Regions from separate parts of the Homo sapiens genome. Here all the other regions are linked to region 2. Evidence: fine-mapped QTL for protein levels in blood plasma. A gene starts in region 2. Each other region holds a variant in brackets. All regions are shown on one strand. Distances are between the middles of the regions. Region 1 has its middle 78 kb from the start of BTC. Region 2 holds the start of BTC (betacellulin). Region 3 has its middle 91 kb from the start of BTC.

What was found. PIP is the chance, under the fine-mapping model, that this variant and not a neighbour inherited with it causes the effect. Protein levels are from antibody-based Olink assays in UK Biobank. Linkage for the fine-mapping came from a reference panel and not from the study's own genotypes, which makes the PIPs less certain.
Region 1: its variant is fine-mapped to the plasma level of the BTC protein (UK Biobank, PIP above 0.99).
Region 3: its variant is fine-mapped to the plasma level of the BTC protein (UK Biobank, PIP above 0.99).

The regions. Positions count from the first base shown.
Region 1 is chr4:74,711,548-74,722,139 of GRCh38, reverse strand. No RefSeq gene overlaps it. Among named protein-coding and RNA genes, the nearest start is that of BTC, 78 kb to the left of the region's middle. The variant C/T (reference allele first, on the strand shown) is at 6,403.
Region 2 is chr4:74,791,640-74,802,207 of GRCh38, reverse strand. BTC (betacellulin) reads left to right here and starts at 7,685. Exons shown (of 6, transcript NM_001729.4): 1 at 7,685-7,946. The coding sequence starts at 7,883.
Region 3 is chr4:74,698,398-74,708,989 of GRCh38, reverse strand. No RefSeq gene overlaps it. Among named protein-coding and RNA genes, the nearest start is that of BTC, 91 kb to the left of the region's middle. The variant T/C (reference allele first, on the strand shown) is at 4,886.

The sequences.
Region 1 (10,592 bases), 80 kb after region 2:
TATCCAGGAGAACTTCCCCAATCTAGCAAGGCAGGCCAACGTTCAGATTCAGGAAATACAGAGAACGCCACAAAGATACTCCTCGAGAAGAGCAACTCCAAGACACATAATTGTCAGATTCACCAAAGTTGAAATGAAGGAAAAAATGTTAAGGGCAGCCAGAGAGAAAGGTCGGGTTACCCTCAAAGGAAAGCCCATCAGACTAACAGCGGATCTCTCGGCAGAAACCCTACAAGCCAGAAGAGAGTGGGGGCCAATATTCAACATTCTTAAAGAAAAGAATTTTCAACCCAGAATTTCATATCCAGCCAAACTAAGCTTCATAAGTGAAGGAGAAATAAAATACTTTATAGACAAGCAAATGCTGAGAGATTTTGTCACCACCAGGCCTGCCCTAAAAGAGCTCCTGAAGGAATCACTAAACATGGAAAGGAACAACCGGTATCAGCCGCTGCAAAATCATGCCAAAATGTAAAGACCATCGAGACTAGGAAGAAACTGCATCAACTAATGAGCAAAATCACCAGCTAACATCATAATGACAGGATCAAATTCACACATAACAATATTAACTTTAAATATAAATGGACTAAATTCTGCAATTAAAAGACACAGACTGGCAAGTTGGATAAAGAGTCAAGACCCATCAGTGTGCTGTATTCAGGAAACCCATCTCACGTGCAGAGACACACATAGGCTCAAAATAAAAGGATGGAGGAAGATCTACCAAGCAAATGGAAAACAAAAAAAGGCAGGGGTTGCAATCCTAGTCTCTGATAAAACAGACTTCAAACCAACGAAGATCAAAAGAGACAAAGAAGGCCATTACATAATGGTAAAGGGATCAATTCAACAAGAGGAGCTAACTATCCTAAATATTTATGCACCCAATACAGGAGCACCCAGATTCATAAAGCAAGTCCTCAGTGACCTACAAAGAGACTTAGACTCCCACACATTAATAATGGGAGACTTTAACACCCCACTGTCAACATTAGACAGATCAACGAGACAGAAAGTCAACAAGGATACCCAGGAATTGAACTCAGCTCTGCACCAAGCAGACCTAATAGACATCTACAGAACTCTCCACCCCAAATCAACAGAATATACATTTTTTTCAGCACCACACCACACCTATTCCAAAATTGACCACATAGTTGGAAGTAAAGCTCTCCTCAGCAAATGTAAAAGAACAGAAATTATAACAAACTATCTCTCAGACCACAGTGCAATCAAACTAGAACTCAGGATTAAGAATCTCACTCAAAGCCGCTCAACTACATGGAAACTGAACAACCTGCTCCTGAATGACTACTGGGTACATAACGAAATGAAGGCAGAAATAAAGATGTTCTTTGAAACCAACGAGAACAAAGACACCACATACCAGAATCTCTGGGACGCATTCAAAGCAGTGTGTAGAGGGAAATTTATAGCACTAAATGCCTACAAGAGAAAGCAGGAAAGATCCAAAATTGACACCCTAACATCACAATTAAAAGAACTAGAAAAGCAAGAGCAAACACATTCAAAAGCTAGCAGAAGGCAAGAAATAACTAAAATCAGAGCAGAACTGAAGGAAATAGAGACACAAAAAACCCTTCAAAAAATCAATGAATCCAGGAGCTGGTTTTTTGAAAGGATCAACAAAATTGATAGACCGCTAGCAAGACTAATAAAGAAAAAAAGAGAGAAGAATCAAATAGACACAATAAAAAATGATAAAGGGGATATCACCACCGATCCCACAGAAATACAAACTACCATCAGAGAATACTACAAACACCTCTACGCAAATAAACTAGAAAATCTAGAAGAAATGGATACATTCCTCGACACATACACTCTCCCAAGACTAAACCAGGAAGAAGTTGAATCTCTGAATAGACCAATAACAGGCTCTGAAATTGTGGCAATAATCAATAGTTTACCAACCAAAAAGAGTCCAGGACCAGATGGATTCACAGCCGAATTCTACCAGAGGTACAAGGAGGAACTGGTACCATTCCTTCTGAAACTATTCCAATCAATAGAAAAAGAGGGAATCCTCCCTAACTCATTTTATGAGGCCAGCATCATTCTGATACCAAAGCCGGGCAGAGACACAACCAAAAAAGAGAATTTTAGACCAATATCCTTGATGAACATTGATGCAAAAATCCTCAATAAAATACTGGCAAACCGAATCCAGCAGCACATCAAAAAGCTTATCCACCATGATCAAGTGGGCTTCATCCCTGGGATGCAAGGCTGGTTCAATATACGCAAGTCAATAAATGTAATCCAGCATATAAACAGAGCCAAAGACAAAAACCACATGATTATCTCAATAGATGCAGAAAAAGCCTTTGACAAAATTCAACAACCCTTCATGCTAAAAACTCTCAATAAATTAGGTATTGATGGGACGTATTTCAAAATAATAAGAGCTATCTATGACAAACCCACAGCCAATATCATACTGAATGGGCAAAAACTGGAAGCATTCCCTTTGAAAACTGGCACAAGACAGGGATGCCCTCTCTCACCGCTCCTATTCAACATAGTGTTGGAAGTTCTGGCCAGGGCAATCAGGCAGGAGAAGGAAATAAAGGGTATTCAATTAGGAAAAGAGGAAGTCAAATTGTCCCTGTTTGCAGACGACATGATTGTTTATCTAGAAAACCCCATCGTCTCAGCCCAAAATCTCCTTAAGCTGATAAGCAACTTCAGCAAAGTCTCAGGATACAAAATCAATGTACAAAAATCACAAGCATTCTTATACACCAACAACAGACAAACAGAGAGCCAAATCATGGGTGAACTCCCATTCACAATTGCTTCAAAGAGAATAAAATACTTAGGAATCCAACTTACAAGGGATGTGAAGGACCTCTTCAAGGAGAACTACAAACCACTGCTCAAGGAAATAAAAGAGGACACAAACAAATGGAAGAACATTCCATGCTCATGGGTAGGAAGAATCAATATCGTGAAAATGGCCATACTGCCCAAGGTAATTTACAGATTCAATGCCATCCCCATCAAGCTACCAATGACTTTCTTCACAGAATTGGAAAAAACTACTTTAAAGTTCATATGGAACCAAAAAAGAGCCCGCATTGCCAAGTCAATCCTAAGCCAAAAGAACAAAGCTGGAGGCATCACACTACCTGACTTCAAACTATACTACAAGGCTACAGTAACCAAAACAGCATGGTACTGGTACCAAAACAGAGATATAGATCAATGGAACAGAACAGAGCCCTCAGAAATAATGCCGCATATCTACAACTATCTGATCTTTGACAAACCTGAGAAAAACAAGCAATGGGGAAAGGATTCCCTATTTAATAAATGGTGCTGGGAAAACTGGCTAGCCATATGTAGAAAGCTGAAACTGGATCCCTTCCTTACACCTTATACAAAAATCAATTCAAGATGGATTAAAGACTTAAATGTTAGACCTAAAACCATAAAAACCCTAGAAGAAAACCTAGGCATTACCATTCAGGACATAGGCGTGGGCAAGGACTTCATGTCCAAAACACCAAAAGCAATGGCAACAAAAACCAAAATTGACAAATGGGATCTAATTAAACTAAAGAGCTTCTGCACAGCAAAAGAAACTACCATCAGAGTGAACAGGCAACCTACAACATGGGAGAAAATTTTTGCAACCTACTCATCTGACAAAGGGCTAATATCCAGAATCTACAATGAACTCAAACAAATTTACAAGAAAAAAACAAACAACCCCATCAAAAAGTGGGCGAAGGACATGAACAGACACTTCTCAAAAGAAGACATTTATGCAGCCAAAAAACACATGAAAAAATGCTCATCATCACTGGCCATCAGAGAAATGCAAATCAAAACCACTATGAGATATCATCTCACACCAGTTAGAATGGCAATCATTAAAAAGTCAGGAAACAACAGGTGCTGGAGAGGATGTGGAGAAATAGGAACACTTTTACACTGTTGGTGGGACTGTAAACTAGTTCAACCATTGTGGAAGTCAGTGTGGCGATTCCTCAGGGATCTAGAACTAGAAATACCATTTGACCCAGCCATCCCATTACTGGGTATATACCCAAAGGACTATAAATCATGCTGCTATAAAGACACATGCACACGTATGTTTATTGCGGCACTATTCACAATAGCAAAGACTTGGAACCAACCCAAATGTCCAACAATGATAGTCTGGATTAAGAAAATGTGGCACATATACACCATGGAATACTATGCAGCCATAAAAAATGATGAGTTCATATCCTTTGTAGGGACATGGATGAAATTGGAAACCATCATTCTCAGTAAACTATCGCAAGAACAAAAAACCAAACACCGCATATTCTCACTCATAGGTGGGAATTGAACAATGAGATCACATGGACACAGGAAGGGGAATATCACACTCTGGGGACTGTGGTGGGGTCGGGGGAGGGGGGAGGGATAGCACTGGGAGATATACCTAATGCTAGATGACACATTAGTGGGTGCAGCGCACCAGCATGGCACATGTATACATATGTAACTAACCTGCACAATGTGCACATGTACCCTAAAACTGAGAGTATAATAAAAAAAAAAAAAAAAAAAAAAAAAAAAAGTCAGGAAGCAACAGGTGCTGGAGAGGATGTGGAGAAATAGGAACACTTTTACACTGTTGGTGGGACTGTAATCTAGTTCAACCACTGTGGAAGTCAGTGTGGCGATTCCTCAGGGATCTGGAACTAGAAATACCATTTGACCCAGCCATCCCATTACTGGGTATATACCCAAAGGATTGTAAATCATGCTGCTATAAAGACACATGCACATATATGTTTATTGTGGCACTATTCACAATAGCAAAGACTTGGAACCAACCCAAATGTCCAACAATGATAGACTGGATTAAGAAAATGTGGCACATATACACCATGGAATACTATGCAGCCATAAAAAATGATGAGTTCATGTCCTTTGTAGGGACATGGATGAAGCTGGAAACCATCATTCTCAGCAAACTATCACAAGGACAAAAAACCAAACACCACATGTTCTCACTCATAGGTGGGAATTGAACAATGAGAACACATGGACACAGGAAGGGGAATATCACACACTGGGGACTCTTGTGGGGTGGGGGGAGGGGGGAGGGATAACACTGGGAGATATACCTAATGCTAAATGACGAGTTGATGGGTGCAGCACACCAACATGGCACATGTATACATACGTAACAAACCTGTACGTTGTGCACATGTACCCTAAAACTTAAAGTATAATAATAATAAAAAATAGTAATAATTTATGGGACCAGGCACCATAAAATGTAAAGATATTTTTTTCTTATAGTTACTATTAACCAGTCTTATTTTTCAATTTGTCTTATACAAACCAACAAAAATCCACATCTTATTTCTTTCTAAAACAAAAATCTTATGTGAGTTAATGTACATAACAGATAAAAGCTGAAGGGTGTGGAACTTGGGCTGCCCCTAAGCACATGCTCAGAACCCTCCAAATGCCACTGAGTACAGCATGGAAACTGCCCAACTGGCCCACGGCTCTGATTTCCAATGATGGGAACTGAGGGTCAGAGGCAGTTCATGGTTCACTGAGAAACCCAGTTCTCTTCTGGAGTGTGTCTCAAGTCAGTGAAATTGGTTTCTGTCTTAGCAGGGTAAAAAACATTGTTACATGATTGTGATTTCTCTGATCTCAAGAAAAATGCTTAGTCTTTTCTTTTTTCTTTTTACTTAGCTTGGCTGTTTCTCTTCTCACCCTGCCCTGCTTCCTTCAGTAATTAGTTTTGGAAAGAAAGAACTCACATAGTAAAAATGACCTGGAAACTCAAATTAAAATTTTTTTCTTGCCCACATGGATTTGTGTGATTCATAGTTGCTTTAAACCCGTAGAAATGTGCTTGCACAAATTAGTAACAACTTTTCATAAACAGACTTCATTGTTCACTGCTAAACATATTCCAGTCAGGCTTTAATTGAAAGGAAAGATATGATAGGAATCTATCTCCATGGCAGAAATGCTTTAAAAGTACTTTATGCTTCTGCAATGATCTGTGACAGCTTTTGAAGATGTTTGGGGGTTTGTGTTTCACAACTACCTAGGGAGATGAGAGAGAAGAAATAGAAAGGACAGAAAGCTAAATATGTGGATTTTGAATGATCAGCTTACATGGCTACAGCTGGGTGAGTCTTCGCTTAATTATATGCAGAGGTGAAACTAATGGTGCTGTGATTATGAAACTGAAACTGGTTAGGAAGGTAAATTACCTCTCTCCGTGTGTAACTTGCCAACCTTGTGGATTAGTCTCTACCTGAATAGAAGACCACATGTAAGGTCTTGATAAGAATAATAAAGACTTATAGTTACGTAGAATTAATCTTGAGTTAAAACAAGGTTCCT[C/T]GGGCCATCTCACAAGTCTAAGGGAGACCAAGCATCAATGTTGCTGTAGGCCAGGCATGGTGGCTCATGCCTGTAATTCCAGCATGTTGTGAGGCCGAGGCAGGTGGATCACTTGAGGTTAGGAGTTCGAGACCACCCCAGCCAATATGGTAACAGAGCAAGACTCTGTCTCAAGAAAAAAAAAAAAAAAGTTGTTGCTGTTTAAATGGTATGTTTTGTTAGAAAGTGTTAGAAAGTGTGTCAGCACTGATTTGCTCAGTTATACCATGATAGAGACCTTAATAAGCCATACTCTATGGTGCTCTTTGCTGCTGTAGTGACAGAGTAAAGGGGGGGCAGTCAGTATGTCTAAGGAACCAGGCCGGCAAATCTTAGAACAGGTTTTGGGCTCAGTCAATACAAAGGAGGCTTCTTTGATGGCAAGTAAGCACTGAAGCAAAGTAACTGGGGTCCAAGATTCCATGTTCGAACATAAATAGAAACTAAGTAAATTTAGGGTGTTCCTCTTTATTTCTATTTTTTTCTGATTTGAGAGGGGATTATTGCTTATTGTTAAAAAATTCAAGATACACAGAAAAGTATAAGATGGAAAAAATTGTTCCATGCCACAAGCCAGCTGTAATGTCAAAGAGATTTTGACATTCTGAGATTTTGACATTCTACTTATGAGATTTTGACATTATACCTGTCTACTTGTTGTACTTGGGATTACCTAAATACATTTCATAACTTGGACAGAGTTCTTGTGAAAATACTAATTAATAGTAAAGCTGGGCCAAAAAAAGTTATTCTCATCAAAAGTACATTTATTTTTTCTCTGGCCATGTGCTTAATCTCCCTATTCTGGTATGTGGGAGGGAGGGCAATGCATCTGTGGTTAAACAATGAAATAGCTGTTACTCCCAATTACTTAAGCTGGCAGTTAATTAATCCAACTGGGAGTGTTTCCAAGTAATTAGAGAGCATCTCAGGACCCACAGACTCACGAACATGTTAAGACATTAATATTCCTAGTATCTTTTATTTTTAGAGGCTTTGCTTTTCACCATATCAGATATATTAAAATATAACCACACTTCCCATATTATGTATAATTTTTGGCTGTTTAATTTATGAAAGAATTTTTATAAAGTTGGGAGTTGTTAAGAGTTGATAGTCTTATGGTGTGAAGTTCATTATGTTATTGTTATGATAGCTGAGCTGCAGACAAGTTGGCATCTGTGTTAGTTTTCTATAGCTGCTGTAACAAACTGGGTGGCTTAATACAAGTGAAATTTATTCTCTTGGAATTATGGAGGCCAGAAGTCCAAAATCAATTTTGGCTGGCAAGATGGCCGAATAGGAACAGCTCCAGTCTGCAGCTGCCAGCGAGATTAATGCAGAAGGCAGGAGATTTCTGCATTTCCAACTGAGGTACCCAGCTCATCTCACTGGGACTGGTTAGACAGTGGGTGCAGCCCATGGAGGGTGAGCAGAAGCAGGATGGGCGTCACCTCATGTGGGAAGTGCAAGGGCTTGGGGAACTCCTTCCCCTAGTCAAGGGAAGCCTTGAGGGACTGTGCCATGAGTAACAGTGCATTCCAGCTCAGATATTGTGCTTTTCTCATGGTCTTTGCAACCTGCAGACCAGGAGATGCCCTTGGATGTCTACACCACCAGGGCCCTGGGTTTCAAGTACAAAACTGGGCAGCCATTTGGGCAGACATCAAGCTAGCTTCAGGTTTTTTTCATACCACAGTGGCTACTGGAATGTCAGCGAGACAGAACATTTGACTCCCCTGGAAAGGGGGCCGAAGCCAGGGAGCCAAGTTGTCTGGCTCAGCAGATCCCACCTCCATGGGGCCCAGCAAGCTAAGATCCACTGGCTTGAAATTCTCGCTGCCAGCACAGCAGTCTGAAGTCAAATTGGGAAGCTCCAGCTTGGTGGGGGGAGGGGCATCCACCATTACTGAAGCTTGAGTAGGGATTTTTCCCCTCACCATGTAAACAAAGCCACTGAGAAGTTCAAACTGGGCAGAGCCCACCACAGTGCCACAAAGCTGGTGTATCCAGACTGCATCTCTAGACTCCTCCGCTCTGGGTGGGTCATCTCTGAAAGAAAGGCAGCAACCCCAGTCAGGGGCTTATAGATAAAACTCCCACCTCCCTGAGACAGAGCACCTGGGGGAAGGGGCGACTATGGGCGCAGCTTCAGTAGACTTAAACGTTTCTGCCTGCCAGTTCTGAAGACAGCGGTGGATCTCCCAGCACAGCGCTTGAGCTCTGCTAATAGACAGACTGCCTCCTCAAGTGGGTCCCTGATCCCTGTGCCTCCTGACTGGGAGGCAGCTCCCAGCAGGGGTCAACAGACACGTCATACAGGAGAGGTCCAGCTGCCATCTGGTGGGTGCCCCTCTGGGATGAAGCTTCCAGAGGAAAGAACAGGCAGCAATCTTTGCTGTTCTGCAGCCTCCACTGGTGATACCCAGGCAAACAGGGTCTGGAGCAAACTCCAGCAGACTCCAGCAGACCTGCAGCAGAGGGGCCTGACTGTCAAAAGGAAAACTAAGAAACAGAAAGGAATAGCATCAATGTCAACAAAAAAGATGTCCACACAGAAACCCCATCCAAAGGTCACCAACATGAAAGACCAAAGGTAGATAAATCCATGAAGATGAGGAAAAACCAGCACAAAAAGGCTGAAAATTCCAAAAATCAGAATGCCTCTTCTCCTCCAAAGGATCACAACTCCTCACCAGCAAGGGAACAAAACTGGATGGAGAATGAGTTTGACGAATTGACAGAAGTAGACTTCAGAAGGTGGGTAATAACAAACTCCTCCAAGCTAAAGGAGCATGTTCTAACCCAAAGCAAGGAAGCTAAGAACCTTGAAAAAAGGTTAGAGGAGTTGCTAACTAGATTAAACAGTTTAGAGAAGAATATAAATGATCTGATGGAGCTGATAAACACAGCATGAGAACCTCATGAAGCATACATAGGTATCAATAGACAAATCAATCAAGTGGGAAGAAAGGATTTCAAAGATTGAAGATAAACTTAATGAAATAAAGTGTGAAGACAAGATTAGAGAAAAAGGAATGAACAAAGCCTCCAAGAAATATGGGACTATGTGAAAAGACCAAACCCATGTTTTATTGGTGTACCTGAAAATGATGGGGTGAATGGAACCAAGTTGGAAAACACTCTTCAGGATATTATCCAGGAGAAATTCCTCAATGTAGCAAGACAGGCCAGCATTCATATTCAGAAAATGCAGAGAACACCACAAAGATACCTCTTGAGAAGAGCAACCCCAAGACACATAATTGTCAGATTCACCGAGGTAGAAATAAAAGGAAAATGTTAAGGGCAGACAGAGAGAAAGGTTGTGTTAATCACAAAGGGAAGCCCATCAGATTAACAGTGGATCTCTCTACAGAAAGCCTATAAGCCAGAAAACAGTGGGGGCCAATATTCAACATTCTTAAAGAACAGAATTTTCAACCCAGAATTTCATACCCAGCCAAACTAAGCTTCATAAGTGAAGGAGAAATAAAATCCTTCACAGACAAGAAGATGCTGAGAGATTTTGTCACCACCAGGACTGCCTTGCAAGAGCTCCTGAGGAAAGCACTAAATATGGAAAGGAACAACCGGTACCAGCCACTGCAAAAACATACCAAATTATAAAGACCATTGAAACTATGAAGAAACTGCATCAACTAAAAAGCAAAATAACCAGAAAACATCATAATGACAGAATCAAATTCACACATAACAATATTAACCTTAAATGTACATGGGCTAAACACCCCAATTAAAAGACACAGACTGACAAATTGGATAAAGAGTCAAGCCCCATTGGTGTGCTGTATTCAGGAGACCCATCTCATGTGCAAAGACACACATAGGCTCAAAATAAAGGGATGATGGAATATTTACCAAGCAAATGGAAAGCAAAAAAAAAAAAAAAAAAAAAGCAGGGTTGCAAACCTAGTCTCTGATAAAACAGACTTTAAAACAACAAAGATCAAAAAAGACAAAGAAGGGCATTACATAATGGTAAAGGGATCAATGAAACAAGAAGAGCTAACTATTCTCAATATATATGCAACCAATACAGGAGCACCCAGATTCATAAAGCAAATTCTTAGAGACCTACAAAGAGACTTAGACTCCCACACAGTAATAGTGGGAGACTTTAACACCCC
Region 2 (10,568 bases):
AATGATTTACATTCTTCTGGGTATACACTCGGTAAAGGGATTGCTGGGTCAAGTGGTATTTCTCTTTTAAGTTCTTTGAGAAATCTCCAAGCTGCTTTCCACGATGACTGAACTAATTTACATTCCCACCAGCAGTGTATGTGTTCCCTTTTCTCCGCAAACTTGCAGGCATCTGTTATTTTTTTGACCTTTTAATAACAGCAATTATGACTGGTGTAAGATGGTATCTCATTGTGATTTGCATTTCTGTAACTACTAGTGACATTGAGCATCTTTTTATATGCTTGTTGGCTGCTTGTAAGTCTTCTCTTGAAAAGTATCTGTTCATGTGCTTTGCCCACTTTTTAATGAGTTGTTGGTTTTTTGCTTGTTAATTTGTTTAAGCTCCTTATAGATTCTATACATTAGATATTTGTTGAATGCACAGTTTGCAAATATTTTCTCCCATTCTGTAGATTGTCTATTTACTCTGTTGGTTGTTGCTTTTGTTGTGCAGAAGCTCTGTAGTTCAATTAGGTCCAATTTGTCAATTTGTGTTTTTGTTGTAATAAAATCTTTACCAGAGCCTATGTCCTGTCTTAGCTTACTTTAACAAATACAATAGATCGAGTTGCATGTTTTCCTCCAATGTAACCTGTATTCCATACATGACTGCAATGAAGAGCAAAGGAAAAATAACTCATACTCTATTAAAACGTGCATTCAGCAGGTGGTAACAGAGATCCAAGTTGTTTTGGATTATAGGGCAAATATAAAATAATTCCATTAATTCATAACAATATAAATGAATGATTGAATAAATAAATATAAGAGAATAGAAAAATCTTTGCAAAAAATGCTAAATAATTTATGTTGATACTCCTCCCTCAGAAAGGTGGAGCATAACTCTCCACCAGTAAGTATGGGCTGGACTTAGTGATTTCCCTCCAGAATACAGTATGGGGAGTAGGAGGAGGTAAAGAATTACTTACTATGGAGAAACCTGACAAAATGAACTCAACCAGGTGACCAAGGTCAATATCAAGAATAGTTATCATGTTGACATTATTCACCCTTCATAAAATCAGTAGAAATGATATTTTATCATTGTGGTCTTCTTCCACCAAACCAGAAAAACCTAACCATGAGAAAAACCTCAGAAAAGACACAATTGTAGAACATGCTATGACATACCTGATGAGTACTCTTTGAAACTTTCAAGGCCAGCAAAAGCAAAGTCTGAAAAACTGTCACAGCCAAAAGGATCCTTAGGACAAATGACGACTAAAGGTAATGTGGTATCCAGGATGGGACACTGGAACATAAAAAAAAAAATTAGACAAAAACAAAGAAAATGTAAGTAAAATATGGACTTTAGTTAATAGCAATGCACTAATGTTTGTTCCTTAGTTTCAACAAATGAACCTTACTAAGGTAAGCTATTAACAATAGGAGAAACTACATGCAAGATGTACAGAAACTCTCTGTAACATTTTTGAATTTCTCTTTGAATCTAAACGTTTTAAACATAAAAAGCTTTATTAAAAAGAAAAAAGTGGCAGAGCTAAGCCTGTCTAATTCCCAAACCCAACTCTATGTTATGAACTGAATGTTTGTATTCCCTCAAAATTTATACATTGAAGCCCTAACCCCCAGGGTGACTTGGATATAGGATTTTTAGGAGGTAATTAAGGTTAAATGACGTCATAATAATGGAGTCCCAACCTGATAGGATTGGTGGCCTCATAAGAAGAGAAAAAGCGAGATCTCCCTATCTCTCTTCATGTGAACATGATGAAAAAAGGCCATGTGAGCTCACAGTGAGAAGGTGGCCATCTGCAAGCCAGGAAAAGAGACCTCACTAGGACTGAATCACCGGATCTCATACTTCCTAGCTTCTAGAACTGTGAGAAGATAAATTTTTGTTGTTTATGCCACCCAGTCTATGGCATTTCGTTATGATAGCTTGAGCCTTACTGCCTTTAGACCTTGATTCTAGGAGTTACTTTGAAAGTTGGACCAATCACTTGACTATGCAGACATCTATTTCCTCTCATTAAGATGAGAATAATAATACTGCCTGCCTATCTCAGCAGCTACTTTAAATTCAAATCGTTAATATATGGGAAAGTATTGTACAAATGTAGATAATTAATTCTTATTAAATTAAACGGATACTAGTTTTTCTTATCTCCCAAAAGCCTAAACATAGTAAATTTAGAGAGTAATGCTGGTTTTATTTTCTAAGGTTTAAACTTGTTTGCATTTGTGGATTATACTCCTTGGATCTCAAAACTAACTAGTTATGTGGACCATTATTAGGTGGTAATGCTGGGGACAAAATTATTAAAAGTATCTTACAGAGATTCATAGGGACAATAATAAGAACTTTCAATATACCTTAAAGACAAAGGACAGTAACTTCAGAATATTTTGTAAGCATGATATCATATTTTCTGCTAAGTCATTTCTGAAGAGTTTACATTAGTTTTAGCGTTTTAAAAATACTGTATTTATGGACAGATGGCAGGTATATATTATAGGGCTAAAGAAATATTTCCGAAAAAATTACACTATGAGAAATATAAAAGCAATTTAAATGTATCATTAAAGGAAGACATGTAGTTATCTCTGAAAAAATCTTAAATTCCAAGGATTGTTAGACTAAAGATATAACTGAATTGTTTGGGGGAATCATAAGGACCATTAAATTATTTTGAGGTTAATAACATGTATATTGATGTCACCTTAAAACAAAGGAAGGATGAGAAACGAAGATGATACAAGAGGTAGATTTCACCTTTTTTTTAACTCCTTTAACATATCATTCTGCATCTATGAAAGATTTTTTGAAGAATTATTTTAAGCTCATCCTCCCTCTCTTCTCCAGCTTTGCTGCTTCTCATTTCTTACTCTTTCCTGTCACCATTTCTCCTTACCAAGAAGTTGGGGGAAGGAGGGAAAATGACCACGTAAAGCTGTGTTAGTTTGTTGTAAACTCATTAAGCATTCATTATTTGGCTGGGTGCGGTGGCTCACACCTGTAATCTCAGCACTTTGGGAGGCCGAGCTGGGTGGATCACCTGAGGTCGAGAGTTCAAGAACAGCATGGCCAACATGGGGAGACCCCGTATCTACTAAAAATACAAAAATTAGCTTGGCGTGGTGATGCATGTCTGCAATCCCAGTTACTTGGGAGACTGAGGCAGGAGAATCACTTGAACCCGGGAGGCAGAGTTTGCAGTGAGCCAAGATTGCGCCATTGCACTCCAGCCTGAGCAACAGAGTGAGACTCCTCTGTCTCAAAAACAACAACAACAACAACAACAACAACAAACATTCATTTTTTGAGTTAATTTTTGAATTTATTTCTTTGCATTCTGGGAAACTAGGTAGCTCATTTATTTAAATCTTCAAATCACAGTACTTTGTTTATATTCAACACGTTTTTGTATCCTGGGTTACGTGCTATCTTGGTCTCTAAAGAGAGTTGAAGGAGGAAGGAGAAATAAAAAGGATGGAGAAGGTGGTCAGAGAGGTGTAAGGGAGGTGTAAGGGCATATGAAGAGGCAAAATTGTACCCAAATCCATGGAATTTTAGCTCAGTGTTACTTTCCCAGCAGAGCCTTGCTCTGTGCCTTTCTTTCTCTACTTCAACTATTAGTAAGAGAGGGTTAGTAAGGATGCCTTTTCCTACTGGTTCTCTCTATGTACCATGTAAAATTTTATAATGACATAACAACTATCAGTGGAACATGGTGGCTCATGCTTGTAATACTAGCATTTTGGGAGGCTGAGGAGGAAAGATTACTTGAGGCCAGGAGTTCGAGACTAGTCACATAGTGAGACACCCATCTCTACCAATACTACTACTACTAGTACTCCTACTCCTACTACTATCAACTATAATTCACTGAACAGTTTCTAATACACCAGATTTTTTCCTTGAAGATATGTATTATTGGGAATCATAAAAACTGTGCAAGTCATTACCATCACATTTTATCAATGAGGAAACTGAGGTTCAGAGAGGTAAGTAGTTTGTGGTTCAGTCATTGGGTGACACAGATCCAAATTGAACAGACTGAACAGATTCCAAAACCAATTGTACATAATATTCCAGCTCTGTTGTCCCACCTAGAGGAGTGTCTACCTTGCTGGAAGTCTGGGACCAAGTAGGAAGAGATGAAGCCACTGTGGCAAGGACTTTAGGAAGAGATGTCTAGGGCCACATAGGTGCTTTCTCACTTAGCCTACAACTAGGGCCAGCACAAAAGCCCAGATTTTTTAAAATCAGAAGTTACTTTTTGAAGTATGTTTCAATATGGCCAAAGAAAAAGATCATCATGGTGAACTGAAACTAACAGGTATAATGTCACAGAGACAATTATTTTTGAGGTTTAATAACATATGTTAAGCTGCCATTTAAAAGAGATAGCAAGTCAGCCGGGCGTGGTTGCTCACGCCTGTAATCCCAGCACTTTGGGAGGCCGAGGTGGATCTCCTGAGGTCAGGAGTTCGAGACCAGTCTAGCCAACATGGTGAAACCCCATCTCTACTAAAAAAAAACCACAAAAAATTAGCTGGGTGTGGTGGCAGGTGCCAGCAATCCCCAGCTACTTGGGAGGCTGAGACAGGAGAATTGCTTGAACCCGGAGGCAGAGGTTGCAGTGAGCAGAGATCACGCCATTGCACTCCAGCCTGGGGGACAAGAGCAAGATTTTGTCTCAAAAAACAAAATAAATAAAAATAAAAGAGATACAAATCAAACACATTGAGAAATACATATAAAAAGTGGATCCCCTAGACTGAAGAGGAAGATACAAGAAAGTAGGCAGGAAAAAAAATAACTACCTCCCTCAGAACAACTAGATTATAAAATACAATTACCTGAATACAACTTTTGAGCAGTGATTTTTCACTGATACATTCTTAGAAACCAATTCAGTAGTTTTAAATAAAATATTTGAAAGTTCTCTCTATGTAACTGTACCACTAATAATCTACAATGCATGATGCTTATCATTACTATAAAAATTACAATTTTAAAAATGCCTTTCATCATTTTCATTCACCCACTCTTATTAAATAAAGTTAATGGTCATTAGGAAATTTTCCTATACTACTGAATGCCTTAAAGCCTTCATTTGGAGAATACATGTTGGCCTAGAAGGAATGCATTCCAAAATTTTCCTTTCCATCATGGCGTGTGTCTGTTTATGTGTTGTGCCCTATATGTAACTACAAGTTTATTTTGTCCTGTCCAGAAGACGGGGAGGACGGTCCCAGCTGCAGGCTGTTCTGTGTGGGAAGAGAAAAAGGCTGATGCTTAAAGGCCCTCCAAAGGAATCTACTTAAGCCTCATACCAGATTTGGGAGGACTGGTTATACCTGCCTAAACCTGGCACAGGAAGAACAGCACTCAAGCAATTCCTACCTTGGGGTTAACTAGGAATACAAGTTTCACCTTGTGACTCTGGTGTAACTTTGGTTTATTTTTCTCTTAGTAACAGCTCAGCTTGCAAATGAAAGCACTGAGACGCAACTCAGTTACATGTTTGAGGACTCAGGAAAATCAATTCTTACCTTCCACTCTTCCAAATGTAATGGTTGTATTCCAGCTTTACCATGCCCCATAAGCAAATGACTTGAGAGAGAGAGGTGGTTGGGGGCTGGGGGAGAAAAAGAAGAAGGAGAAGGAGAGGGAAGAAGAGGAGGAAGAACAGAGAGAAAGAAAGTGAGGGGAAAAAAAAGAAACAAACAAAAAAAGACAGGAAAAGTCTCTTAACATTGAAGAGATTGGATATCCAGTGTCAGAAAATTTGGATTTTCTTGGGAGTACTTATTTTATTTATGGTGGTAAATAAAGCCCTCAAGGAAGGTTATTAATTTATCTGTCCTATTTAGTATATTAAATTATACTACTTCATATTCTAGTGGCCTGAAAAAGTTAATTTACCACTTGAATGGCATAAATGATGAATACTTACACCAAGTCCTGGAATTTTCCAATGCTCAACAAACATTTAGTACTTTTTGTTTAGGTCTCGCTTTTTTTTTTTTTTATTAGTATCTACGAAAAAGGAAAACAAAATTGTAGCATTCTGTTGGGGCTAACAGGACAGCTGTTGGCTAGGCTAAATGCCATCTTGGAGTAAGAGATACTTTAACTTAGGGCACTGGTGCTGAGAGATGGAGAGAATATCAGAAAAGAAAAATGCAGGGTGGAAGTGTTGAGAGGGAGGGAGATGATGTCAAAATCCATTGGCTTCCAGTGTTTCTGCTCTTTTTAGCTGGGGTGCAGTAACCTTCCATCTTACAACTTTGGGTTTCTTTAAACTTCATGCCTGCCCTCTCTACCAATGTTTTATGAGCTGTCATGTGGGACTAGAATGGGATTCTGAAAATTAAGAGCTGATTTTTATTCCACCGGATATATCAGTTGCCTGGGGCAGTAAAATAATTTAGTTTTGAAATGAAATGTTATTCGTGGGAGACAAGTGCACAACAATTTACTTAACTTAAACAGTAGGATGAGGAGGAAGAGGCAGACACCCAAACTACATTTCATATGTAAAATAAGGCTTACATGACTTTTGGATGCTATAGAAATAAAATTTCTGTACTGAGGGGCATAATTATCCACATAAATCTTATATGAGGAACACAGACCAGTACAAAAGCAGCTGTATCTTTTGGTTATCTTGGAGGCAATATATAACCACATAAGGTAAAATTGGATGCTGCTTGCTTTCTCTAAAAGCTGTGAGGATGTCTTTCTGTTCCAGAAATTGCTTAATGCAAGTAAATGAAAATATACTGAATACATGAGTAAATTCATAAACAGAAATACAAATGAAATTTCTAAAGTAGGTCCTGGTGAGCCCCAATTTTATGAATTATTAGAAGACAATGCACCCAGAAACTAAGACACTAGCTTGAAGACTTTTTTCATTTCTTTTCTTTTTTTTTTTTTTTTTTTTTGTTGCTGATGTTGTTGTTGTTGTTGTCGTTGTTTTGAAACAGTGTCTCACTCTTGCGCCTTGGCTGGAGTGAAGTGGCTCGATCTAGGCTCATTGAAGGCTCCATCTCCCAAGCTTAAGCGATCCTCCCCACCTCAGCCTCAGGGAATGGATGGGACTGCAGGTGCACACCACCATACCCGGCTATTAATTTACTTTTGTATTTTTTGTAGAGACGAGGTTTCGCTATGGCTTCAAGACTTTAAAAGGCAACAATGACTCTTTTGAAATTGCCTGCATTATCAAATGCCTGAAGTCAACCACAATGAATGGTGAGTCTGGTTTCTCCATGACACTAGCAATCCTCTGAAATAAAGGAAGTTAGAATTCCAGAACACGTTTGGGTCTCTGACTCTTCCTCGGTGGCTTCCAGGAGTTTAGGTCAGCCTGCAGGCCCGACCGGAACCCCCGACACCCCTCCACGCGGATTCTTTACATCTCCCTCCCTACCTTGTTTACGCCCTAGGGGGTAGGGAAATGAACAGTCAGTCAGGTGAGACCCAGCAGGGGGAGTGGTGAGCTGGTCCGAGGGCAGCCCGAATATGTCCCTGGGTGTGGGTATGGGTGTGGGGCAATTTGGGTGGGAGCAGCGTGGAGGCTCCCAGGACCAAGTCCTGCGCCTCTTTGGCGGGGTGTGTGCAGGAGGAGGGGGGATAAATAGGAGGCTCCCTCCTCCCGGCGACATTCACGGAGCCGGCCGGCCTCCCGCCCTGGGTGTTTCCCTGCCTTGTAGCCAGGGTGCCAGCCTGGGAAGTAGTTTCGTTTCCTTCTGCCTCCGGGATTAGTTTCCAGGCACCCTCTCAGGCGCCCGAGGCCCGGGAAGGGGGCGAAGAAGGAGGGAGACTTGTCTAGGGGCTGCCCGGCCCGGCAGAGCGGGGTTGATGGACCGGGCCGCCCGGTGCAGCGGCGCCAGCTCCCTGCCACTGCTCCTGGCCCTTGCCCTGGGTAAGTGGCCGTGCTGGGCACTGGAAACCAGGAGGAAAGTCTGGGGCTGGAGTCGCGGGGAGGGCGAACCCTGAACCGAGCTGGCATCTGGACAAGAGGGCGCGCTGGGGCTGGCAGGCGCGGGTTGGAGAACTTTGAAGGCTGGGAGAGCGCGAGGTTAAAGATCTGGCAATTGGGCACCTGGGGCTGCACCTGCTGGAGGCAGTCCCTAGACGCGTGAGAAGGCCCGAGGGCGGAAGCGATTCCGAGGTCCTCGCTGCCAGTGCTGCGAGCAGGCCGCCAGCTGCTGACTTGTGCGCACAGCAGAGGGCCTGGCGGCGCCGGCGGGCTGTCCACCGGGGTGAGGCGCTGTGCTCGCAAGTGAGGGTCGGGGGGTGGGGGCAGGGGCGAGCAGGGAAACCCACTAAAGAAGCTCACGTGGTAGTATAGACCAAGAAGCATATCCTGCAGGAGGCAGAAGAACGGGAACTCTTTGACTGAAGGTGTGATCACCTGGCGTTAGGGAAGAGTGCCAGCGGGAGGAGGAGTAGCAGGATGCCTAGAGCCCTCCAGAGGGTCTCTCCTGCCTCCTTAGGAGTCAGAACTCACAAAGCAGAGCTGGAACTTCAGATGTGGCTGGAAGCAGGCTTCCCCTTCCCCTCCACCGAGGGAAGGTAGTGAGAAGGCTTCTAAGTAGGAAAAAATCCCAACTCTTCAAAGCTTGCTCTCTGCATCATGGTCATTTTGCGGGGCAGAGAAGGGAAGGGAAACCAGTAACATTTTCTAATCTTAGCTGGGCTGTAGACACATCTGGGTTTGGAGCATTTATGTGGTAGGAGGAGAGTCTCCACAGCTGAAGTGTCACCACGATATCACTCCTACCTTCAAGCCTGGGAAGGGGACACCACAAATGAAAAAGAATGGGAATTCCTCTTATTGAGGAAAGAGAGGGGGAGCCTAAATGAAAACTTTCATTTGACTGTGTCCTTGGAGTAAGAGAGGTGGCTAAAAAGGTACAGTGAACTTGCTTGGAGGTGGATCAGACTTAGGACCAAGGTTAGAGAAAATAAACTTATTTAACAAACGCTGAAGAGGAAGGAGTCAGTAACAATTTAGTGGTAGAGTGAATGTGTACATTCATGAAGAAGAGCAATGGGGTTGAGACTTAACCCTAGAAATAGTACTGATGCTTTTGCCAGCATTGCTTGCAAGTAGCTGACATTCTCTTCCTCCACCGTGTCTAAACTATCCAACAGTCAAAGTATTCCCTGAGAATCTGTCGTAGTCAGCAAGGTGCTGAGGTATGTAGCAATGGAGGTGGGGAAAGGGCTCATGAGATTCCTAAAATAAAACATGATTCCTGCCCTAGAACTTGCACTGAATTTGGATATGCAAGCCCAGCAGGGTAACCTGTGGAAAAATTCACGGAATCAGAAAAGGGAGAAAGAGCTCAACAGCGGGGGCTGGAATAGTGGGGAAAGGCTGAATGGAGGACACGAATGCGTGCCTTGAGGCTTGGGTAGAGTTTGCAATAGTAGAGAGGAAAGAGGGAACAGAGACAAGGGAAAAAGCATTTAGTAAAGGGTTGGCGATGCGAATGAGCATGCTTTACTGGAAAGAGTAGAATTTCTGAGAGGCAGACAGATTATGAAGAACTGAAAAAGCCAGATTAGAATATTTGGAACAGAATCAATAAGCTATTAAACACACACCATCACAGGGCTTGACTGGGAGTGATATGATGCAAACAATGGTTTAAAGGTGATAAATCTGTCAGTGAGGTGCAGTATAGGAAGGGGGGGCGCCTGTGGGCCAGAGGACCTGATTGTCTCGTAGGTATAATCTGGGCATGAGCTACTTGGGGCCTAAATTAGGGTGATGTTTTAGCAGAGGTGTCATAGTAGAAATGACTATTGAAAGTCGATGGACATTCTTTCCCCTTTACTATCACAAAACTTGTCAAAAGACAGAAATGAAAATCAAAAAGCAAAACTCGAATCCAGTGCTATTGTACACTCAGGGTAACCTAAATGTACAACCGCCCTGTTAAATGATTGGCTTGGGAAATTGAATTTGGTCTCTAGATCCCCTTAAAGCTCTATTTCTTGCAAAATGCTAAGGAACGTAATTTGTTGGCATCGCTGTTTCCATTAAGTGGCCCTATTTCTGTCATACACACTTTACTTTTAAGTCCCCTTCCTAAATTATGTCACATGTTGTTCTATTTACTTTTTGAAAAGAATGTGAGCAATAAGATGCATGAGACACTAGTGTTTGTGTGTGTGTGTGTGTGTGTGTGTGTGTGTGTGTGTGAGATGGTGGAAATGCGATGAGAGTGGGCATTGAGCAGACATGAGCCCTGGTTCCAGCTCTACCACTTCATGACTCCGAGATGTCTGTAAGTTACAACTTTCTGGGCATTGTTTTTCTAATTTGTAAAATGAAGAGGTTTCATTAGATGGTGATGCCCTTTCCATGTCACATTCTTTTCAAAAAGTAAACAAAATAACATGTGATTTAAATTAGAAATGGCTTATGTCTATTACAAATGTAGATGCTCCTTAAATACATCTGGCATTTAGTAGATGCATCTTTACAGGATAATTTCCATTCTAACATATGCAAATTAGGTACTACTTTCTT
Region 3 (10,592 bases), 93 kb after region 2:
AAAACTGACAAATGGATCTAATTAAACTAAAGAGCTTCTGCACAGCAAAAGAAACTATCATCAGAGCAAACAGGCAACCTAGAGAATGGGAGAAAATTTTTGCAATCTATCCATCTGACAAAGGGCTAATACCAGAATCTATGAGGAACTTAAACAAATTTATAAGGAAAAAACAACCCCATCAAAAAGTGAGTGAAGGCTATGACAGACACTTCTCAAAAGAAGACATTCATGCAGCCAATAAACATGAAAAAAAGCTCATCATCACTGGTCATTAGAGAAATGCAAATCAAAACTACAATGAGATACCATCTCATGCCAGTTAGAATGGCAATCATTAAAAAGTCAGGAAACAACAGATGCTGGCAAAGATGCGGAGAAATAGGAATACTTTTACACTGTTGGTGGGAGTGTAAATTAGTTCAACCATTGTGGAAGATAGTGTGGTGATTCCTCAAGGATTTAGAACCAGAAATACCATTTGACTCAGCAATCCAGTTACTGGGTATATACCCAAAGGATTATAAATCATTCTACTATAAAGACACGTGCACATATATGTTTATTGCAGCACTATTCACAGTATCAAAGACTTGGAACCCACCCAAATGCCCATCAATGATAGACTGGATAAAGAAAATGTGGTACATATATACCATGGAATACTATGCAGCCGTAAAAAAGGATAAGTTCATGTCCTTTGCAGGGACATGGATGAAGCTGGAAACCATCATTCTCAGCAAACTAACACAGCAACAGAAAACCAAATACCACATTTTCTCGCTCATAATTGGGAGCTGAACAATGAGAACACATGGACACAGGGAGGGGAACATCACACACTGGGGCCTGTTGGGGGGTGGAAGGCTAGGGGAGGGATAGCATTAGGAGAAATACCTAATGTAGATGACAGGTTGATCGGTGCATCAAACCACCATGTCACATGTATACCTATGTAAGAAACCTGCACATTCTGCACATGTATCCCAGAACTTAATGTATAATAGTAAATAAATCAATTTCACCAGGTTAAAATCAAGGTGTTGACAGGTTTGTACCTGCTCTGGGAGCTACCACAGAGGATGTTCCTGGACTGTCCCAGCTTCTGGAGGCTGTTGGCATTTTCTAGTTTGTAGGTATATCTCTTCATTCATTGTCTCAATCTCCACATCACCTTCTTCTCTCTGTGATAACTTCCTCCTCTGTCTCTCTGTTCTATGGACCCTTGTGATGGCATTTAGGGCTGGCTCAGATAATCCAAGAGTATCTCCTCATCTAAACATCCTTAACTTATTTCTGCAAAGATTTTTTTTTCAAATAGGTAATATTTATGGATTCTGGAGGTCAGTGCTGGATATCTCATTCAGTCCACTACAGCATAATATTATGCTTTGTAGTTAACTAAACTTTTATCAATTTTGATTTAGTAAGACTTTTATTTGCATATGCCAGTACCAATACATTTTTCCAGGTCTCAAACTTTCCTGTGAGTCCTTCAGAAGCTTTTATCCTGGGCACCTTGCTCATAATGATAGAGACTTTCTCCCTACCTAAAGCAAATTTGATTAAAAGAAATCGCATCACCTATAGCTAGAGCAGGTGTTTTCTTTTTTTAAAAAAAAACTTTTATTTTAACTTCAGGGTACAAGTGCAGGTATGTTACATAGGTAAACTGGTGTCACATAGGTAAACTGGTGTCATGGAGGTTTGTTGTACAGATTATTTCATCACTCAAGTATTAAGCCTAGTACTTGGGTGATGAATTACTTAGTTATTTTTCCTGATCCTCTCTTTTCTCTGACCCTCCATCCTCTGAAAGTCCCCAGAGTGTTTTGTTCCCCTCTATGTGTTCATGTATTCTCATCATTTAGCTCCCACTTATAAGTGAGAACATGTAGTACTTGCTTTTCTTTTTCTGTTTTACTTTTCTAAGAATAATGAACTCCAGCTCCATCCATGCCCCTTCAAAGGATATGATCCCATTTTTTTATGGCTGCATAGTGTTCCATGGTGTATATGTACCACATTTTCTTTTTCCAGTCTATCCTTGGTCGGCATTTAGGCTGAGTCCATGTCTTTGGTGTTTTTCTAAGAGGTATTTTGCAGAGGGAATTGCTAGGATGCGTTGGCAAAGGAGGAGACTTCTGTCTACAGAGTTCTTGAATTTCATATTTCTGTGGCAACAAATAAGAGAATTACAGAGAGAGTGAAATAGTTAATGTTAACTACAGCTCAGACAGAGAAGCATTAAACTTTAAACCTCAAACTTTAAGCAGATTGTTCCATTTGCCAGCTCTCAGGGGCTTACTGTGCTGCCAGGCACTATACACAGTCCTTTTTACTTACTAGTTCCACTGCTCAGACAATTTCTTCAAATGACGTATAATCTCTTCTTATAGATGAGGAAGCAAGGTACAGAGAGGCTAAATAATTTGTTCAAAGTCACCCAGCAAGTGGATGGCAGAGGCAGAATTTGAACCCAGGTCTGTTTAGCTATAAAGCCCAACTTATCTTGTATGTACTATGCTGTATCATTTCAAAAAAAATACATAAAGCACATGACAAAGAAATTAAAACTGTAGCCTAAATCACAAAAGATTATAACCAGAATAGAGGCTTAACCTCTGTCACCCCAACTTAGTTTTCATTCATTCTCTGAGATAGGGAAACAATAGTCGATACCATTACTTGAACTACAGATGTGTGTGGTTATTTACTGTTTGATAGGACTATATATAATTGATTTCATTATATAAGTTTTGATCTTTGCAACTAAACTTTTTCTGTAATCTTTAGTCTTTGAGTGTCTTGAATTAGAAAGAACTTGCTCAGATACCATTCATATCCAAACTTAATGTATTCTGTTAATATTAACAGTCATTATCACTGTGCCCATAGTGGATGAGCCAGGAAAACCATTATCTCATACTAAAGAATTTCCCAAATGTTGGAATCTTGTTCAATAATTATACATTTCTCTGTGCTATTTACTATAGTATTATTTACTTGATATTCCTTTATTTCCTGTGTTTTAAATTCATAGTTATTTAAAAGGCAACTATATCACTATCGTAATTAGAATATCAGCATCTCTATAAATAGAAGGCAAACAACAAATATTAATGCAACGAAAAGGAAACAATATTTTAAAATTCTGGATAGATAGTATTAACTGCCCATGGAAAAGGTTTTGGACTTGCTTTGTTATTGTTAGAAAGGGAGATGAGCAAGTCTTTGAGAGCTGGTAAATGCACAATGGCATTGACCCCAAATTTCCTCCTTGATAAAATCTGAGGATTGAATGAAATTCTCATTCAATCCCAGCAAAAGGAGTAATTTTCTCACTAGATAATCAATATACTTATGTATGTGTTGTGAACCACATGAACACATCTTGCTATCACCCGTGACTGTCCTCCGCCTTGTGGTATCAGGCTTGAAATTAAGATTCAGCATTATGTGCTTCTTTGCCATCTGAAACTGGGAGAGTTTTTAATGGCCTAATCACAAGCTCCCCCCTCCTCCACTCTACTCCTGTGGATAAAGTCCTCCAGCCAAACAACACTACTTACCAGAGGAACCAGGCACAGTGTCTGTTTATCCCTCAATAGCAGGCTTTAATTCTGGGCCTGCAACATTATTAAAACAAGCCAAGCACGTGCTTCTGCAGGAATCAAGGGTCACCTCACCCTCTTGGTACTACAAAGCCTGCCTCCCACAACTCTGCTTGTTCACTGTGTTCCCAAATGCAACTCACCCCGCCGTCCTGAGTGGAGTGCAGTGTTCTTCCCCAGTCTGTGCATCTATGTGACTGATAAACTGCTGGGATATAATCTGCCCAGTGCTGGGCGTTGTGTGTTCTGCCATCCCTATAATTCCAGGGTGGGAATGCCTCCCTCACCAATGGAGTGAAGAAGAGACAATCAAAACATACTCCAGTTTGGGAAATAGTGCCATCCTATAGAATGGCACCCAAGCAGATCATCTTCCTATTTATAGGATCCCACTCCTTCCTTAAAGGAGCACCAGATCATCACTGGAACAGAAAGACTACTACAAGTGTCATTTGGGTAGTAAGTTCTTGAGATGAGGGAATCTTTTATCTCCTCAAGAGTCTTCATTTAACCTTATGAAGAGAAACAGTGAACTTGGTTTGGCACGCCATTGGTAGGTTTTTATCTACAAGGTCTGATGTGAGGACTTTTTATGCAAATTATCTTTTCTTATTGTCCTGCCAAAGTAGTTTTAACTCCTGTGAGCCCAACACTTAGCATTAAAACCTCTTATTTTCCAAAGATGACTGACAAAATGCTAAAAGTTGTGCTGTATGCAGTTAAAAGCATAGATTCTGGATGCTCAGGAATCAGACTGCCTGGGTTCAAATACAAACCACTTATTTGCGTGTGTTTGGGCAAATTTCTGAACCTCTCTGAGCCTCAGTTTTCCTACTAACAGTACCTTTGTCATGGGATTTCAGTGAATATTAAACGAGTTACATAGAAAGAGCTTAGAATAATACCTGGTACATAGCAAATGTTCAAGAAATGCTAGCTATTATTACTAGAGAGGCAGCAACACAGTATACCTTTAACACTTGTTAAGTAAGAACCAGAGGCAGTAAGAACCTGAGGAAAAAGGAAACTTGACATGCATATACTGAGGGGAGTATGGGCATAGGGTACCATCCAGAGCTGCTGGGACACTGCAAGGGAGGTTTATAGAAGACAGAAGGCTCTGGGTGCCTGGGAAAGGAGGAAGAAATATGAAACAGGCAAAAAAGATGGGTGCAAATAAGCTTCACCACCCTTATCATTTTCATGCAGGCTGGCTTGTCATTCCACATATTTGGCATTCAAGAAAAGATGTTGGTTACAAGTTTAACAGA[T/C]TGACAGAATTTTATGCTGTCTTCCTTCTCTGATGCATTCTTGCATCCTCCCTTGCTTTGTAGTTACTTCTGTGCATATAATTTTCTACTAGTTTTTAACCTCTGTAAGGGCAAGAAATATATCTTCTGATTTTTTTTTAATTTCCCACTGAAAGTAGCACAGTACCTAGCACAAAGAAAGGAGATAATCAAATACATGTTGAATTAATTGCTGTGGGTGCTAGTTTGGATACTAATTGAACTTCTGTCATCAACAAACTGAAAGCACCGTTGTTTAAACAAAATAGAAGTTTAGTAATATTTTTCTGTCATGTAACAGCTGAAAAGTAGGTGGCTTTGTTTCATGATGTCATTCAAAGAACCAGGATCCTTTAATCCCATGGCTTTATTACTCCCTAGGGATTTGCCTTCATCTTGGGGTGGTCAATGTTGTTCAGTCCAAGGAGTGAGGAAAAGAGCAGTGTAGGGGTTGCAGTTTCCTTTGGGGAATAGCTTCTGCTCACACACTCTTGGCCAACACTCAACCACACAAACTCACTTAGCTGGGAGAAGTGGACTGTAGAAGAGCAGCCATTCACTCAACTAATACTCAGAGATATAAAGAAAGAAGGAGAGAACGCTGTTGTGAAATGATTAGAAGTCTCAGCACACTTTGCTAATTCTGGAATATTCACCCAACACTTACTTTGTGTGCCTTAAGTGCTTCTTAAGAATAGAGATTAGATGGGAAAGGAGAGGATGAGAATTTTGACTCTAGCACCCTCCTGACATAAGGAGGCTTTGTGTGCCTCAGCCTCTGAACCAGGACCTCTATGACTGACACCCAGCTATTCCAGGAAGTCACAGATCCTCAGGTGATTTTTGGTCTGAGGCCAAATGGCCTGTGCCATCCATACCTTGAAAGCATTTTTTTTCCCCATGAAAGAAAAATGTAAAGGCAAAGGGGAGCTGGAATTACATGTTAAACATGGTATGATCCTTCAAGAAATAAATGTGCATATTTTTGTTTCTGATGCAGTTCTACCAAATATAGAAAGCATTTCAGAATTCTCTAAGAGCAATCCTAGATTGGAATGTAAATGTAGACTGGAGAAATAATTTTTAGCACAAATAGACAGACACATAAATGTGAACAGTCTTTCTAATTCAGGAGTTTTCCATTTTTAAGTCATGAAAACTTTGCAATTAAAAAATTTTGAAGCATGAATCAAATGACTAAACTTTACTGATGTGAATGTACAAAGTAAATGACAATAAAACTAACAGTCCGTGTTTGGGGACAATCCATGACTGTCGGATAGTCGGAGGTTTTAGAGTTGGAATAACTTTTCTCTTCTTTCTTTGCTTTTTACCTGATTCATGCAATTCAATTATAAGGCAGTCTGCCTGTATGTGGTCACAAAGACTTTCTGTGCTCATTTTTTAGCTTCTTAATTATACTTGAGGATAATTGCCCTAATATAGTATGTAAATGGGAGTGTAATTGTTGAGTTAGGAGAATAGAAAATAACTGATTTCAGAAATAATATTCGTATGAAATGTAATCATATAAAAATTTGAATAATATTACACACATACACACACACATACACACATTATCTTTAAAAAAAATTCCTTAAAAGTCTAGGGTTATTCTTTAGCTGAATCTCTTTGAGTTTGAGGTTAGAATAATTGGGGTACTCTTATTCACCCTGATATGATTTCTCCATGAATGTACCCAAACAACCAGCAGCTGAAGGGATAATGCTGTGTTCACAGACTCTGCAGCCTGGGATCACAGGACACTGACAGAAAGCTGCATTTCCACAAAGCAACCTTTCCCTCTGAAGGCATCTTTCCCCTCTGATGGGTCACTCTGGGGGAGCTGCTCGTGCAGGTCTTAGCACGGCTGCCTCCTGTTACTGAAGTGTCAGCTCTTCTTAAAGAAGCTCACTGTGACTATCTTTCTTAAAGTCACTCTTTACCTTACCCCAGTCACTTGGTGATATCATCATTTGATTGTCCTGTCTGTCTCTGCTTCCATTAGACTGTGAACTTGATGGCAGGAACCATATCTGTAGGGCATAGCTATGTCTCCTGTGCCTAGAACAGTGCTTGGCACTGAACAAGTACAGGATAATTGTTGGTTGGATAAACAAGTGATCCTTGATTGTGATTTATACTTCATCCTGGTGACTTTTACTTTACTATATCTTCACAATGAAAAGTGTGATTATTGTAAATGGCACATTTATTACTTAGGAGATGCAGCTATTGAAGGAGAGGCCCAGAGAATTTAGGCAATGTTCCCAAGGCACACAGGATGTGTGCAGCTGGAATCACAGGCCAAGTCCTTCCTAGTCTAGGACTCCTTCTCTTTCAGCTCCCTCAAGTTGCCTCCCAATCTGATGAGAATCCAGTGATGTAAGGTATGTGAAAATACCTTGGAGAGTGTAATGGATTATGGAGGAGATATCTTTATATATTTTTTAGTATACAAAATTCTCACTGTTGAAAATAGTTATTTAATGGCAAAGTGTTTTCAGCCTCTAAGTAGAAATAGAGATGCTGTCAGGGTACTCGTTGGAAAAAAACTATGCTAAGACAATGCCTTTCCACAGCAATGTAGCTTAGCGTGTCCATTAATAAATTGGTTCGCAGTTGTGTGAGCTTGCAGAACTGATATTTCTAGTGATCTGAAACAAGTGTGGAGAAGGTGATGAATAGAATTTAGTGAGGTTTTTTGCTTAATCATTGATTTAAATGCATTTTTATATTGTTGAAATCATCACAAATTTACAGAAAAGTTGCAAGAAAAATACATAGACCTTTTTTCTTGAAGCTTTTGAAAGAAAGTTTCCAAACGGGTGTCCCATCATTTCCAAATACATTAGTGTGTATTTCCCACAAAAATGACGTTTCCAATATAACCACAATACAACTATTAAAATCAGAATATTAATAGTTATACATTATTTCCATTGAGTTCTTAGGCCTTATTTAACTGTCTACCCCATAGCAAAATAATTTTATAAATTGAGTTTGTATTTCATTTTAAATTTTCTTTAAAAACCTCAAAAAGAGCCATTGTCTAAATAAATTACAAATAATTGATATTTTTTGTGGCAAGTTAGTTTTGGCCACATTACAACTATATATGGTCACTTAGATGTAGAAGAAATAAAATTCTGATGGTTTTAATATTCCTTAATTTATTCCTTAATATATCTTAACATTTTGACAGAACTGAAGGCACCTGTACTCACCGTGAGCTTGTCTGACTGCCACTCATGTGAGGACCTTCTTCAGAGTATTCTTTATGCAACAGTTTCTATCTTCTCCTCAAGACAGTTCTGCTGGTGCCACAGACTAGTCTGAGCTGAGGGTTTCTTACTTTCTCAGGAACAAACAGAGAACCCCAACCCCCACCCCCAATCCCTCCCGTGTTCATCTCCACAGCTGGTCATGTGCTCTGTCAGCAGGTTTTTAAGCAAACAGTAGGTTTTGGTTTTTGTTTTTGTTTTGAGACAGAATCTTGCTCTGTCACCAGGCTGGAGTGCAGTGGTGCGATCTTGGCTCACTGAAGCCTCTGACTCCCTGGTTCAAGCGATTCCCCTGCCTCAGCCTCCCGAGTAGCTGGGACTACAGGCCTGCACCACCATACCCAGCTAATTTTTGTATTTTTAGTAGAGATAGGGTTTCACCATATTGGCCAGGATGGTCTCAATCTCTTGACCTCGTGATCCATGAAGCAGCCTTAGAATAGTCATGCTATCTAAGGCAGATACATTACCGGAATGTAGTTCTATTACTTAATACAACATGCAAGAACTTAACACATGTCTCCATTCATTCCCCCCAAGTAAGCAGAATTCTACTGAGAAAACAGTATTGTGTTTTTTTTTTTCTGATTACAAGAATGACATAAGTAGTTATATTTTATTTAGATAGTATGGAAAAACAAGTAAATAGATAAAAATGTTCAGAAGACATAATCTTCGTAAACATAAATACATACTATAACCTGTTTTTTTACTTAGGAAAAAGTTATTAATTATGTCCTATATTATTGATATGTCATACACCAGAATTTCCCAAACTTTGTTCTAGTGAAACCAGGGCATTGAAATTGATAATGAAATAAGTGAGGGAAATGCAGTATCCTGTACTTCCTTAAATAAAGTAAGCTGTTTAATTTGCTTTAACTTGGTGTTTCCCAAACCATTGTTCATAGGACTGACTTTTGATCAAAATCTTTTAACACACTTTGATAAATACTCTTATTTCTAAAACATATACTTTAATGACTGGAGCATGTAGTCCACATTATGTCAGTTAAGAATTAATTCACATCCAAATGGCAGAAGATTCAATCACAGTAGTTCCACCAGATAGGAGTTTATTTTTCTCATGTCATAAGAAGCGTGGCTCTGGAGCAGCTTCTCAATGGTGTCATAGGAGCTCTTTCTGTCTCGTTCCACCATTTTAAAATTTCTACTTCACTGTTGTAAAATGCCTGCTACACCTCCAGGTATTAATTACCTAGTCTAGGCAAGAAGAAAAAGGAAGGGGTCAGGAAGACGGAAGGACCAAAGGGAACGACAGCCTTTGGCCAGACTGTCCCTTAAAAACCAATCATATTTCTTGGAAATCTCACCAGTAACTTCTACCCATGCCTCATTGGCCAGTTCTGGGCTACTTGATTACCCTGAGCTACAAGCATGTCTGGGAAGGTGAGTGCTTTAGCTTTCCAGCCCCCGCAATTGAGGAGGTCAGGAGAGGGGCATAGGGAAGAGCCTTTGGATAGACAAACCACCACATTTACCTTTACCCATTCCCTTGGCTACCCAACATTCCCAGGCCCTTGTTCCTCATTATTGCGGGTCTCTCGCCTTTCCAGTGAAGACCACACCAAAGTTTCATTCAGTTACCACATCCAGCTTGAAATTCAGGACCTCTGTGTGATATGCTGTCCTATTTGTCAAATCTGAGTGTAGCTTACGTTCTAGTGACTCATAAGTCAAAAGTTAATTATCTGTCTTCAATGTGTACAACATACAATGATGGAGAAAGAATTTTCATATAAAAAATGTGATAATGGCAAACAAAAAGCAGTTTCTATCTGTAAAAAATAGCAAATCTTGTTTGTTAAAAATTGCAGGGATAGGCCAGGCCCAGTGGCTCATGCCTGTAATCCCAGCACTTTGGGAGGCCCAGGCGGGTATATCACCTGAGGTCAGGAGTTCAAGACCAGCCTGGCCAACACAGCGAAACCCTGTCTCTACTAAAAATATAAAAATTAGCTGGCCATGGTGGCAGACACTTGTAATCCCAGCTACTTGGGAGGCTAAGGCAGGAGAATCACTTGAACCTGGGATGCGCAGGTTGCAGTGAGCTGAGATCGCACCATTGCATTGCAGCCTGGGTGACAAGAGCAAAACTCTGTCAAAAAAAAAAAAAAAAAAAAAAGAATTGTAGGGACCACCGGACTTGGAAAAGACTGCACTTCTTGGTTAACCAAACTGGCAGTTCCTAGTTCTGCCACAGTGAGATTCCTCATTGTTCATTGTCCTCCATGAACACAGGCAAGACGACTTTCTGGGAGCCTGCACATCTTTTTCAGGTCCTTCCCAGTGGTACAAGTTTAAGGACCCTAATCCCGCTTTATGGATTAAGCACTCACAAGGTTACCATTAGCCAGGGCTGGGATTCCTCTGTCACTACAGTT